2 linked regions of the Homo sapiens genome follow. The protein of the gene in region 1 interacts with the protein of each later gene in a pairwise test. Each region holds a gene or a part of one and is shown in the gene's direction. Other genes may lie near its edges.

Region 1 (7,806 bases):
TGATAAACTATTGTTGGGATTCCTCACTTTCCTCTGTTCCCACTTAGAGGTTTCCAATGAATAGAGCATAAGGATGGCTGCCGCCATGTTTACCATCTTTATTCTTATCTTGAACAACTGCCTTGAATTTCTGCTTCCTTTCTTGTGCTAATAAACTGTGCCAAAGGCATCTTGCTCTCTCCCCTCTGAAAAGCCCAGGCATCCCCTCCACATTCCTGACTCAGACCCCTTTAGCTTTAGTGAGTCAGGTCTTAAACAGAGAATTTAGTCCAAAGAATAATCAAAATATTATTTGTCTAATAATAACCATAGGCCCAAAAGGTTCACAGGTGAAAAAATATCTCAAAAATCTAACACCCAAAGCCTACAAGTAGTCACAGGCCCTAAAGCTCCCCAAATTTCACAGAGCCCTGACCCTCCTATCTCTTCTGTTTGTCGAATCTCTTGCAGTAAAATCCCATAGCTTGGAATCCAAACCAGATCTGCCTCATACTGATGCTCCCTCCCCTACCCCTTGCATAAATAGAATTTAAAAGGGAGTTTCCAGCATGACCTAGTGGAAAGAGTACTCTAAGCAGAAACAAAGACAGTCTCAGCTGTGCCACCAGTAGAGCTATGCTCTAATGGGTAAGTCATCTAATCTCTGTGAGCTTCAGTGAAGAGTAGTGTTAACATCCTTTTCAATTCTAGTGCCCTATGAATGCTACAAATGTATCTGAAAACCCAGAGATCTGAAATGAATGAGGATTTAAGATATCATGAAAAGTTTTTCAGATTAGGAGCCTAAACTCAGAGATTTGAATTCTAATGTTAGCTTAGCCAAGAACTAGCTTTATGACCTAGAAAGTTACCTAAAGGGAACCTATATTGCACAACAAGAATTAAGAAACCCATCCTGCATGTCTTCAGCAATATTGAGAGGGCCAATTAGATATAATGAATGTGAAAGCATTTTGTAAACCATAAAACAGTATCTAAACATACCTTGCTATCAATATTTATTGTCCTCATCAGTAGCAGTAATAGAGATTCTCAAACCCTAAGAAGCAATGGCTTAGTGTAAATTATTCAATCTCTCTAGTATTTCATTCTCTTCAATTGAGAAATAAAAAGATAAAATTATATAGTTCTAAATTCTTTCCAACTACAAACTTCTGACTCTCTATGAGTCAGAATGGAGGAACATAGCAGGAGATAAATACAAAAATATTTATGTCCTTTGAAAACACAGAACTGCAAAACATACCATGAAGGAACAAGACTAATATTACCAAGAGGTAGCACTAAGTTAGTTACTTTCAATTTATTTGATACTCTTATAAATTCTTTGAGTTGGAGACTACTATTTCCATTTTATTTTTAATCTTAATTTTGCAGAAGAGAAACTGAAGCTAAGAGAAATTAACTAGCTTCCCAAGGTCACCATAGCTAGGGAATGGTTATGTTAGGGATTGAACTTGGGCAGTTTGATTTCTGCTGTATCCCTAGACACTGTCCTCAACACTTCTACATAGCTTATAGGCATGGTTACTGCTCAGGTCTATGGAATTCCAAAACCAGCTGTCTCTGTGAGATTCCTTGATGCTTTCCATCTCATAATAGATTTAGAACATATCTGTTATTAGCTATGGATCTTCTGGACCAAATCCTCACCTCAAGGAGGCTCTCTGTACCCCAGTTGGTTCAAGAGTGTAGGCCTGGTACACCTCATAGCCAGTTAGTAACTTGGCCCAAGAACAGGCCACTGGGCCAAGTTCAACTGAACATACTGAAAATTGTGTGTGCCAGGAAACTAGGTCTCTTTGTTGACCAAGGCTTTTAAAGTACCAGATGTTTCATTTGTCTCCCAGAGAAGACACCCACCAAGACCCTCCATTTTGATGACTAGAACAAACCAAGGCCAGATCTTTATTTCAAAGGAAGAAAGACCTCTACAACCAAGAAAACTTTATGAAATATGAGCATTGTTTCTGGAAGTTCAACTCCCATAAGCTTTTCAAGTATATTAACTCTACCATAATATTATTTCCAAATCCACTAAAGAAAAATTCTATTAACCAAAAGTGTCTTCATCTGTGGTTTTTATTTGTGGTCTATTGGGTGCCTTAGTTTTTTTGGGGGGTGGGGTGGTTTGGGGGATAGAAAAGTCAGTATCTGTATTTTCAGAAACAGAAAGAATATAAAAAATATAAAAGGCTGGTTACAACATGAAAACAACATGGAAATTTCATGAAATGTTAATTCTTCTAGGAATAGATGTTCAGTGTCACAGTTGGATCAGCCTCTAGCTTCCCCTTCCCAAAAGCCTTGTCAGAGAGGACAGAGGAAAGATAGAGGAGCATACCTCAAGATAGCTTGCTCCTGTTACCTTTCCCGCTTGTCTGAAAGGCCTAAATCGGATTCACCTTTCAAGGTTGGCTTTATGGATGGTGTTATTTCATCCATATCCCCCAAAACTGTCTCCCATTTGTTCCAGGATGCCTGAATCCCCTTAAAAGAGAACAAAGACTTTCATTTCACAGTGAGAGATAAAAGGCTTAGAATGAAAATGTCTGGTTGATATAAGACCAAGACTAAAACAAATTCATACCACTCTGAAGTCAGGCAGTCAGTCAGCAAGAAAAAGGAAATTGACTGGTATCAGAGGTATTCACAGTCATTGGTAGAGGAAAAAGGTTGTAGAGTAAATAAGTGGCTCCAAAAAGGGTTGGAGGATGCCAGCTTATGGCTCCTGTCCTGGTCTGGTGAATAGAACTTATTTTGGGTGCCAGCCCCATCCTAGCTGTTCTTTGTCTTGATCTAAACAACCAGCCCCACCCAGCTGAATTTGAAATCGGACACTCCTATGCCAAAACACTTTCTATATGAGGAATCAGAACCCTTTGTTGAACAGATAAATGCCTTGTACTGGTGACCTTTAAGAGTGGAATGAGTTATAGGTATATACTTGTAATTCTGTCTCTATTTCTGATATAGCCTCACGACATTAGCCTGACTGATTAGCATGACATTTACTTAACGAAGAGGATCTAAAGGGTTTTACTTAGGTGTCTCTAGACACTTCTATAATCCTGTATCAGTTCACTAACTTACCTTTACACTTATTTTTTATAGACAAAATATCTATCCCAATCTCTAATGATTCACCTCACAATCTTGTATGTGCTAAGTAAAAATCCCCAGCTAATTGTAAATAGCGCTAAAATAGTGAAAGCAAGCACTAGGTACAAATTGTTGCTGTTCTAAACCCCATACACAAACTAACTCATTTATTCCTCAAAATAACTCTACAACAAGGTAGGTACAATTATAATCCACAACTGCATTTGCAGATGAGAAAATTAAGGCACAGAAAGATTGAGTAACTTGACTGAGTTCACACAGACAGCAAGTGGCAGGGCCACGACATAAGTTGGGCCTTCTGACTTGAGTCTTGCTCCTAGCCACTATATTACACCACAACCGAGCTACTCAGACAACTGGAAATCACTTAAATCGTTTCTTATAAGAAACAAAGAGGACTCATTCAATCATCCTGATTGATAATCAGTGACAGACTTGAGGGAGGAATTGTTTGCAGTGTTAATAATCACCTACTTGCAGATCTGAAAAAGAAAAACCTTTTCCTCAACAAAACTCAAAAACTGAGTTGGACAAAAAAATGTTTTTCTAGTTGGAGACAGAAAGGTCATTTAGTAGTGCCACTGAGATGCTTACCCACAGTTTGGTTCCTGCTTAAAACAGTTTTCCCTGCTGGGCGCGGTGGCTCACACCTGTAATCTTGACACTTTGGGAGGCTGTGCCGGGCAGATTACCTGAGGTCTGGAGTTCAAGATCAGCCTGGTCAACCTGGTGAAACCCCATCTCTACTAAAATTACAAAAAAATTTAGCCAGGCGTGGTGGTGGGCGCCTGTAATCCCAGCTACTCAGGTGGCCGAGGCAGGAGAATCACTTGAACCTGGGAGACAGAAGTTGCAGTGAGCTGAGATTGCACCAGTGCACTGCAACCTGGGCAACAGAGCGAGACTCCATCTCAAAAAAAAAAAATTTTCCCATATTTCCCAAAATAGAAATATTTTCAATAAATCATTGATTCCACTCTTAATCTGCTTACTTCCCATGCAAAAGAGTCAAGGTAATGTCTACTACAAGCAAGATAAAATCATTTCAGACACTACTTTCTAGTTACAGAGTATAGAAATTGTCTCTGGAGAACTATATTTTGATACACATGCTAAACAATAGGAGGTCACTAGGACTCATCTGTAAGACGGTGGAACTCAATTTATCTATTCCCAAATGACTAATGGCAATGCTCATATTTTTTGGACAATTGCTGTTAAGGGATCCAATTCTCCTTATGAATTAAAGAAACTCTATGTTACTTCCTGTCTAAAAGGATTAATGGTTTACTACTAGTTACCAGTTGATGTGGTACTTAAGTTTCCTCAGGGCTAATGACCTGGTGGGGCTTACAGTACTATTCCAGGCCAATCATTGCACAGTCATCTCTTTCAAGAAAGTTTCTAACCAATAAGCAGAAGCCTAACTTTCTGGCTGAAAGCTAAGTGTCCCATATATTCCTGGGTGACGCTGAAGCAGGTTACATTTCCTCAGAAGAAGGCTCCTTGGTGGTAAGTTGAACATTTCTGGGCAGGGTAAAAATCATACTTAATATTATGTCATAAAGTAGATTCTGAGGAGTAGGTGAGGGTGTCAAGGACTATGAAGAGAAGTGTTTTGTAAAAACTAAAACGATAATAGCTTCATTTATAATTTCCCCAGGAAAGGTTACTTGAGAAATGAAGTTGAGGGTTTTTTTAATTCAAATACACAGCTTTAATAACTGCATGAGAGAGACAAGTTTTTATTTATATTTATCTCATTTTTCTAGAACTTCCCTTGAAAAGCCAAATTTTAAGGTATCAATAAGGAAATATAATTCTAAAGCAAGTGTTTTAAGACAGGCCAGTACTATGAAATTGCGAAAATTATTGTGAAGTCTATTCACCTCACAGTCAAATATAAACCTCTCAATTATTGAAGACATTTCATTAAAATGAGTCAGTAGAGCATGATTATTTTACCTAAACATAGCAGAGGACTTTTTTAAGGTATATGACTTATTTCTTATAGATATATGACTTATTTCTATATTCATATTTTTTTAAGGTTTCATGTTAGTATTTGCAAAACAAACAAATGTATGAGCAAATGAAACATTTGGATCTTGTAAAAGATCTAAGAATTCACAGAGACATCATCTTGATGGGATGTATTTTTTAAATGCATATTCTAAAACATAATTTTTTACTTGTTGCATAGGTAACAAAATTTGGAATTTATAAGTTGAACATGTACAGATTTTTATAAACTAGCAAGAATATATTTTTTAGAAGTTTTGTTTTTCATTTTATATGTTGTATAGTATATATTCCTAACAATCAAAATACTTTGCAGTTTCAGCATTTAGTACTGTCAGTGAACTGTGTCTTAGGCTGAGAATATTCTCATCAGCTCTTACTGTATTCAATAAGTAAAGTTACATCTTTTCTAAAGTCACAGTGAACTCCAGTGCACTGAATTCAAGCAAATACTACAAACACAGGTAACATTTTAATGACTGCATTGGAAGTTCTGTTTGCTGGAACAGTTTTCCAGTTATTTATTATCAGATTTAATTACTCACATGACTAAGGTTCCTGGACAGATAAATTTTAGTGAAATGAGTTTAAAATTGTATGTCTTGTAAAATAAAACTGTTCCCTTATATCCCACCCTTACCTAAATATATTTGTATTACTTGGAACAAGTTTAATTTTCTTTTTCAATGACAGCTTTGAAGAACATCCTGAAGATTATATCGGAGACAATATATCAAGAATCTATTTATTGAATCATCTAGAACAAAAGCCAGGAGCTCCCTAATGGAAGCACATTAGTGTTTATTTTGATGAAGAAATATATAGATTTTTTAAAACAACCACAAAGTAGATAGCTCAGTAAAAAATCAATTTTGGAAGATGTCACTGAACAACTCTTCCAATGTATTTCTGGATTCAGTGCCCAGTAATACCAATCGCTTTCAAGTTAGTGTCATAAATGAGAACCATGAGAGCAGTGCAGCTGCAGATGACAATACTGACCCACCACATTATGAAGAAACCTCTTTTGGGGATGAAGCTCAGAAAAGACTCAGAATCAGCTTTAGGCCTGGGAATCAGGAGTGCTATGACAATTTCCTCCAAAGTGGAGAAACTGCTAAAACAGATGCCAGTTTTCACGCTTATGATTCTCACACAAACACATACTATCTACAAACTTTTGGCCACAACACCATGGATGCCGTTCCCAAGATAGAGTACTATCGTAACACCGGCAGCATCAGTGGGCCCAAGGTCAACCGACCCAGCCTGCTTGAGATTCACGAGCAACTCGCAAAGGTAAGCTTGAAGGACACAAGCAAGTCTCCTCCCTTATTCATAACTTCAGATAATTTCCTTCTCTTTCATTACACTATGAATGAATGTGAAACAGTCAAATGGAGAGGTCTATTCCAAACACTATCCATCTTACTTACAAAACTGTCCCTAGTTCCCAGAAAAGTGTTTCACAGATGCTTTTTCTTTGGATTTTTTTTTTTCTTGAGACAAAGTCTTGCTCTGTCACCCAGCCTGAAGTGTGGTGGACACTGCAGCTTTGAACTCCTGGGCTCAAACAATCCTCCCACCTCAACCTCCTGAGTAGCTGGGACTGCAGGCATGCACCACCACACCTGACTAACTTTTTTATTTTTTGTAGAGACAGGGTCTTGCTATGTTGCTCAAGCTGGTCTCGAACTCCTGACTTAAAGGGATCCTCCCACCTTGGCCTCCCAAAGAGATGGGATTGCAGGCATGAGCCACTGTGCCCAGCTCCACAAATGTTTTCTGACTTAGGATAGAGAACTAAAGAATTAACTCTAAATGTTAGGCAATATGTTGTACCTTGTATATGATTATAGTCCACTCAATTCACACTTGGTTAAACACGTCAAACTGAATACCAAGCTGGTTTCACGTCAGTATTAATGTCTCTATGTCAATCGTATAAAAAGCAAAACACTTGTGCTTGCTGTAGTTAATACTGTGGGTGACAGCCTTTAGTGTGTAGGGGTATTTTTTATATTCTTTAAAGAAAGGGCAGAGATTTATAAGATTCAGCATTTTATCCCTTCCTCTTTAAAACTTTGCCTGAGGCTCCTGAATGTGCTTAAGCATATAAAAATAACTAAATTAAAGTACAGAAGCAGCAGAAGTGACTAAACTTTTCATTATTTAAGAAATACAGCCAGGGTTCCCAAGTCTGTTAGAAGTGAGGCAGCACTTTTCCCAATCTTTTTTGAGACGAAGTATCGCTCTTGTTGCCCGGGCTGGAGTGCAATGGTGCGATCTCGGCTCACCGCAACCTCCACCTCCTGGGTTCAAGCGATTCTTCTGCCTCAGCCCCCTGAGTAGCTGGGATTACAGGCATGTGCCACCACCACACTCAGCTAATTTTTTTGTATTTTTAGTAAAGATGGGGTTTCTCCATGTTGGTCAGGCTGGTCTTGAACTCCCAACCTCAGGTGATCTGCCCACCTCAGCCTCCCAAAGTGCTGGGATTACAGGTGTGAGCCACCATGCCCGGCCTCCAATCTTAGAACTTAGTAGATTTCTTCTTCCATAACTTTCTCCAAAATATACTGATCACCTTTATCTTCCTGCTCTTCCAGACCAGTTTGGAATAAATATCATTCTTTATAAAACACAATTACCTGCTAAAAA
Region 2 (4,988 bases), on another chromosome or scaffold:
GTAGGGACTGTGTGAGCTCCGCAAGCAGCACGGCCCCTGGGCCAGGGCCCCTTCCTCTCTGCTCTCCGGGGTCTGGGCTGCTTTCCGGACAGCACTGTCCCGTGGCCTTTGCTGACTCCCTAAGGGCCCCGGGAGCCCCAGGATAGCAAAGGACCTGTGCCTGGCCTCACCCCCATTCGCAGCTCTGCAGCCCTCAGGTCCTGGTGCCCTCAGAGACCTGGGATATGGGAGAGGGGCTGCAGCGCTGGCTGCTTCGGGGGTTTTCCTGTTTAAAGGTCAGACACACACACACACACACACACACACACACACGTAAAATTCTATACGTGTCTAATACATAGACACTAAAATACTGTTTTCCAAATTTTTTTTTTTTTTTGCGACGGAGTCCCACCTTGTCGCCAGGCTGGAGTGCAGTGGCACGATCTCAACCCACTTCAACCTCCGCCTCCCGGGTTCAAGCGATTCTCCTGCCTCAGTCTCCCAAGTAGCTGGTACTACAGGCGTGCACCACTATGCCCAGCTAATTTTTGTATTTTTAGTAGAGACGAGGTTTCACCATGTTGGCCAGGATGGTCTCAATCTCTTGACCTTGTGATCAGCCCGCCTTGGCCTCCCAAAGTACTGGGATTACAGGCGTGAGCCACCGCGCCTGGCTCTGTTTCCACATTTAAATGTGATGCCACTGACTTCATCAGACTTCTCCAAGCATCCTCTCTGTCAAAGCCTTAGTTGTCACCAGGGCTGTTATTTGGAGACATCCAATAGTTCCCCAGGCCCTGGGAGCTCCATTGTCATCTGTGCTGTTTGAGATAGCACATTTTAAAAATTCATGGTGCTGTCACTGAAAACCTCATCTTAAGCCTCACACGTGCTGTTTGCACAACAGTAGACCACTGGTGTCTTCTGAACACCGTGATGTAACCACTTACTATATTGTTTTTCATTTTTTTTTGGAGTTAATAGTGTCACGTGCTTTCAAAAGCCACCAAAGAGGTTCACTGAGAAATCTCTGCACCTCCCTCCCCAGGTACACAGCCTCTCCTAGATGGGCCAGCGTGACCGTCACCTGCATGTCCTTTCAGAGACCTGTGTATAGGGGCAGAGAAGCTTTCCTTTCTCTTTTGACCAGAACTTTCTTGGTAACCTTGCTGTTTTCATGTACCAGTGTGTACTCAGCTGCCCCGTCTCATGGTGGGAGCGTGGTGTCCTGATGCATGGGTAGACCACAGCTTAGGTGACTTATGCCCACCTCACACACTTCCAGGCTGTCGCCAATCTGTCACCATCACAGTGAATAACCTTGTATATTCACCATTTTGCAGTACAGATGTGGATATATCTGTAGGACAGATTTCTGCAATGGAATTGCTAGGTCAGAGGGTATGGCTGTAAACATTATCTGCAAATAAGAAAAAGACAACCAATCCAATAAAAATGTAGGTAAAGGGTATGAACAGTTCATAGAAAAGGAACTGCAAATCGCTTGCCAGCATATAAAAATATGCTCAGCCATTCACTCATGATAAAAGAGGTGTAAATTCAAGCTACTCCGAGACAGTGCCACATGCCTATTGGCAACACTAAAGTGGGAAAGACTCGTGTGTTGAGGACGCAGAGTCACTGGGGCTCTCATCCCCTGTGTGTGGGTGTGGAATTGGCACAGACACTTTGGAACTCAGGACAGTACCTCCTGCTGCATCTGCTGGGCACTTCCCGGTACCCAGCCTTCTACTCCTCAAAAACATGGACGCGTGCCTACCAGGATATCCCCAAAATTACAAGGCAGCTTCATTCACCATGGCCAGATTCTGGCCGTATTGAAGGAAAGGCTGCTCAGCAGTGGGATGGCGGGTGGGCCGCGGAGGCTTTCTGTCGGGGACTGTGCAGCGTGGGTGGGCCACACACATCAGGCTGGGCCAAAGCACCCGGCCGCAGAGCACCTGCCGCACGGTGCCATGGGCCGGGGGGGTCACAGCGAAAGCCAGTCTCTTGAGTGGGATGCCAAGTGGCCTGTCTCTCCGGGCAAGACTGAAGGGGCAGAGGCAGCCTCTGCATCATGTCACACAGGTGTGCGTGATTGTGACGAGTCGTGCAGCGGTGTGTGTGCACTCCGGATGTTATTCTTCCGTTTAAAAAGTACGGAAAGGAAGGTTTCTCAGCTGTGAGGCATTTTCACTGAGCAGATTGAGAAAGCCCCAGAGCCTGAACCATGCCGTGCTGCCAGTGCAAAGCAGGGGAAGGCAGCTGGCCTGGCACAGGGCTGGTGGCAGGGCAAAATGGGGCCCTCTGGCAGGTGGCTGAGATCTGTCTGTGCAATTGCAAATGCACGTCCTTGTGGCCTATAAAATTGGAGTGTATTTTGGGGTCTTCGTGAACCCCTCACCCTGACACCCACTGCATCCATGAGTCAATGACAGTGTCTGTGTCTCTGCAGCCAAGAAGCCCTCCATGAGCAGAGCAGCTACATCCTCTCCAGTGCAGAGACGCCTGCCCGGCCCCGAGCCCCGGAAACTTCTCTCTCCATCCACGTGGGGAGCTTCAGATAACCGCGCCGCTGCACGGCTCTACTCCCGATGAACTCTCCGGCTGATGCCACAAACGTGGGTTTCCTGGGCATGGGGACTGGCTGCCTGGCGCCTCCAATCCCAAATCCTCTGCTTCCTTTGAGCACAGGGACGGCTCCTCTGAGGCCTGGCCAGTGCATGTAGTCACTTAGCTCTGCAACACGTGGCAGCCACGGGGGCTGGTGCAGCTCTGGATGTCGCCCACCCAGCTGCCAGTAGGTGCTGGGCTCTCTCACACAGCACCCGGCCCCAGCTGCCTTTTTTTTTCTTTTAACCAGAAAATGCACAACGTGTGCGTGAACCGCAGGTATGGAGGCAGCGGCATGCCGTTGCTCCGCTGTGGGAGGTGTGTGGGGTCAGGCCAGCCACTTTCCTCCGTGTTCAGATGACTCTCGTTCGCCCTGACCGGCTTCTCACAGTGTCTCAGGCCACTGCGCCACCGCGCTGGTGCTGAGCAGAAGCGGGCAGAAGTGGGGTCTGCTTTCAGGACTTCATTTCCCCCACTCGTTCCGGCCCCGCATGCTCCACGTCTGCCCTTTGGTCTGAGTTAAAACTGCGATGCTGAAAAGTGCGAGCTCTTTCCACGAGGAGGAGCCACACAGGGTGGCCTCCGAGGGTGAGTCGCTCTGCTAAGCAAGGGCAGCCGCTGCACGTCAGCCCGCAGGCCAAGGGTCCAGCTTATCCTGGGTGCTCTGTGATCAGAAGGTCCTTGGATCCCGAGGACTGCAGCTGCTGCCGTCCACAGCGCCTCAGCCTCTCTTCCTGTGTGGAAGCGGGGCAGGCAGGGCTGTGGCAGACAGGCCTGGCATAGCCCAGGTTCCAGGTGTCCTGGGCAGCCTGACCGGTTTCCTGAGTAGCCTCAATGAAAACACCTGAGAAAAAGAAAATGTAAACTAAGGAAGGGTTTTCCCACTTAATCCAACCCAGATTTCTATTCAACTTAAAGGATTTAATTGGCATTTGTGAGAAATAATAGTACCTGTGTCACTGAGTTGATTGATTTGGGACATAGACGGTTGACTTTCCCAGACAGCAGCTTAGCGGAAAGCAGCATCCCGAAGACGGTGTCGCATGTCCTGAGCCTGCTTGTCACCTGGGCCTCACGGTTTCTCGTCAGCCCCGTCACTGATGGGAAGCAGCACTGAAGTGTGAGGGCAGAAAGGACACCGCTGGAGTCAGGCGCTCCCCTGCCTGTGACCCTTTTCCAACAAGCTGATGCTGAGCCAGCGGCCTGCTTTGTCCCTCATACTCCTCCCAACAGTCCAAACCCCTACCAGACAGAAGCCACGTCGCTTCTGCACACGTGTCTGAGAGCGTCTGCCATAGACGTCTGTGCGTTTCCGTGAAGCACTGCGCCCTAAGGACCCAACTCTGACTAGCAGCTGCCTCCCACTCCCAAACACTAACCCCGCTCAGGAGACTCGCACTGGGTGTAGACTGCGTCTTTGCAGAGGGAGATGATAGAGGCTTCTGATGACGCCAGAGCTGTAAGTGTCGTGACGAGCTGGGCGCCCAGCCCTTCTTAAGCTGTTCTGTTTCTGTGGCTTTAACTGACATATTTCTGTAGCATCTGCCTTCATCTCATCTCAGCGTAATGAAATATTAATGAAATCGCTGAAAAGCTTTGCCTTCGAGAGGCCAGAAGCCTCGCGGAATGTCTGCAAGTCCAAAGACGCGTGTGGGTTGTGCCCTGAAGTGCCGTCCAGCAGGCGCGTGCGGCCGGGCCGGCCTGTGCGTGTGGCCTTTGCCTTCTTCCCTTTCTTCCTGTTTTCTGTTTTTTTAATTTGGGGATTGAGAAAGCTGTACGATTTTGTTAAAGAAAAAAATAAACCATTTTTTAAAGTTGTAGCCCTTAGCTGCTTTTGGTTGCCGGCTACTTCGTGCCCAGCTTGCTTAAGAGAGGAACTTTTGGCCGGGCGCGGTGGCTCACGCCTGTAATCCCAGCACTTTGGGAGGCCAAGGCGGGTGGATCATTTGAGGTCAGGAGTGTAAAACCAGCCTGGCTGACATGGTGAAACCCTGTCTCTCCTAAAAGTACAAAAAATTATCTGGGCATGGTGGCGGGCGCCTGTAGTCCCAGCCACTCGGGAGGCTGAGGCAGGAGAATCGTCTGAACCCAGGAAGCAGAGGTTGCAGTGCGCCAAGATCGTGCCACTGCACTCCAGCCTGGGTGACAGAGCGAGACTCCGTCTCAAAAAAAATACATAAATAAAATAAGGAACGTTTGTGGCCCTTTTTCCCAAGCCTGCTTCAGATGCTAAATAAACAGTTTATATTTAGAAATACTGCAGCAGTGCTGCTTTAGAAATAACAAGTTTGCTTTGGTTTTAAAAAGTTCAGACTCATGGGAAAAATGCACTGGAAGAAACTGGATGTAATCAATCTGGTTTTATTTTCCTTCTATGGAAATACGTAATGGTG

The links. The genes of interacting proteins can lie anywhere in the genome.
Region 2: the proteins of SLC12A1 (region 1) and USP40 interact in a two-hybrid assay, tested with the Homo sapiens proteins (one study listed by BioGRID).

What each region holds. Positions count from the first base shown.
Region 1 is NC_000015.10:48,201,696-48,209,501, forward strand, and holds the start of SLC12A1 (solute carrier family 12 member 1), read left to right. Parts: upstream 1-4,606; 5' UTR 4,607-4,635; intron 4,636-5,838; 5' UTR 5,839-6,024; coding exon 6,025-6,444; intron 6,445-7,806. UniProt on the Homo sapiens protein: Renal sodium, potassium and chloride ion cotransporter that mediates the transepithelial NaCl reabsorption in the thick ascending limb and plays an essential role in the urinary concentration and volume regulation. Electrically silent transporter system.
Region 2 is NC_000002.12:233,474,953-233,479,940, reverse strand, and holds the end of USP40 (ubiquitin carboxyl-terminal hydrolase 40), read left to right. Parts: intron 1-2,437; coding exon 2,438-2,549; 3' UTR 2,550-4,415; downstream 4,416-4,988. UniProt on the Homo sapiens protein: May be catalytically inactive.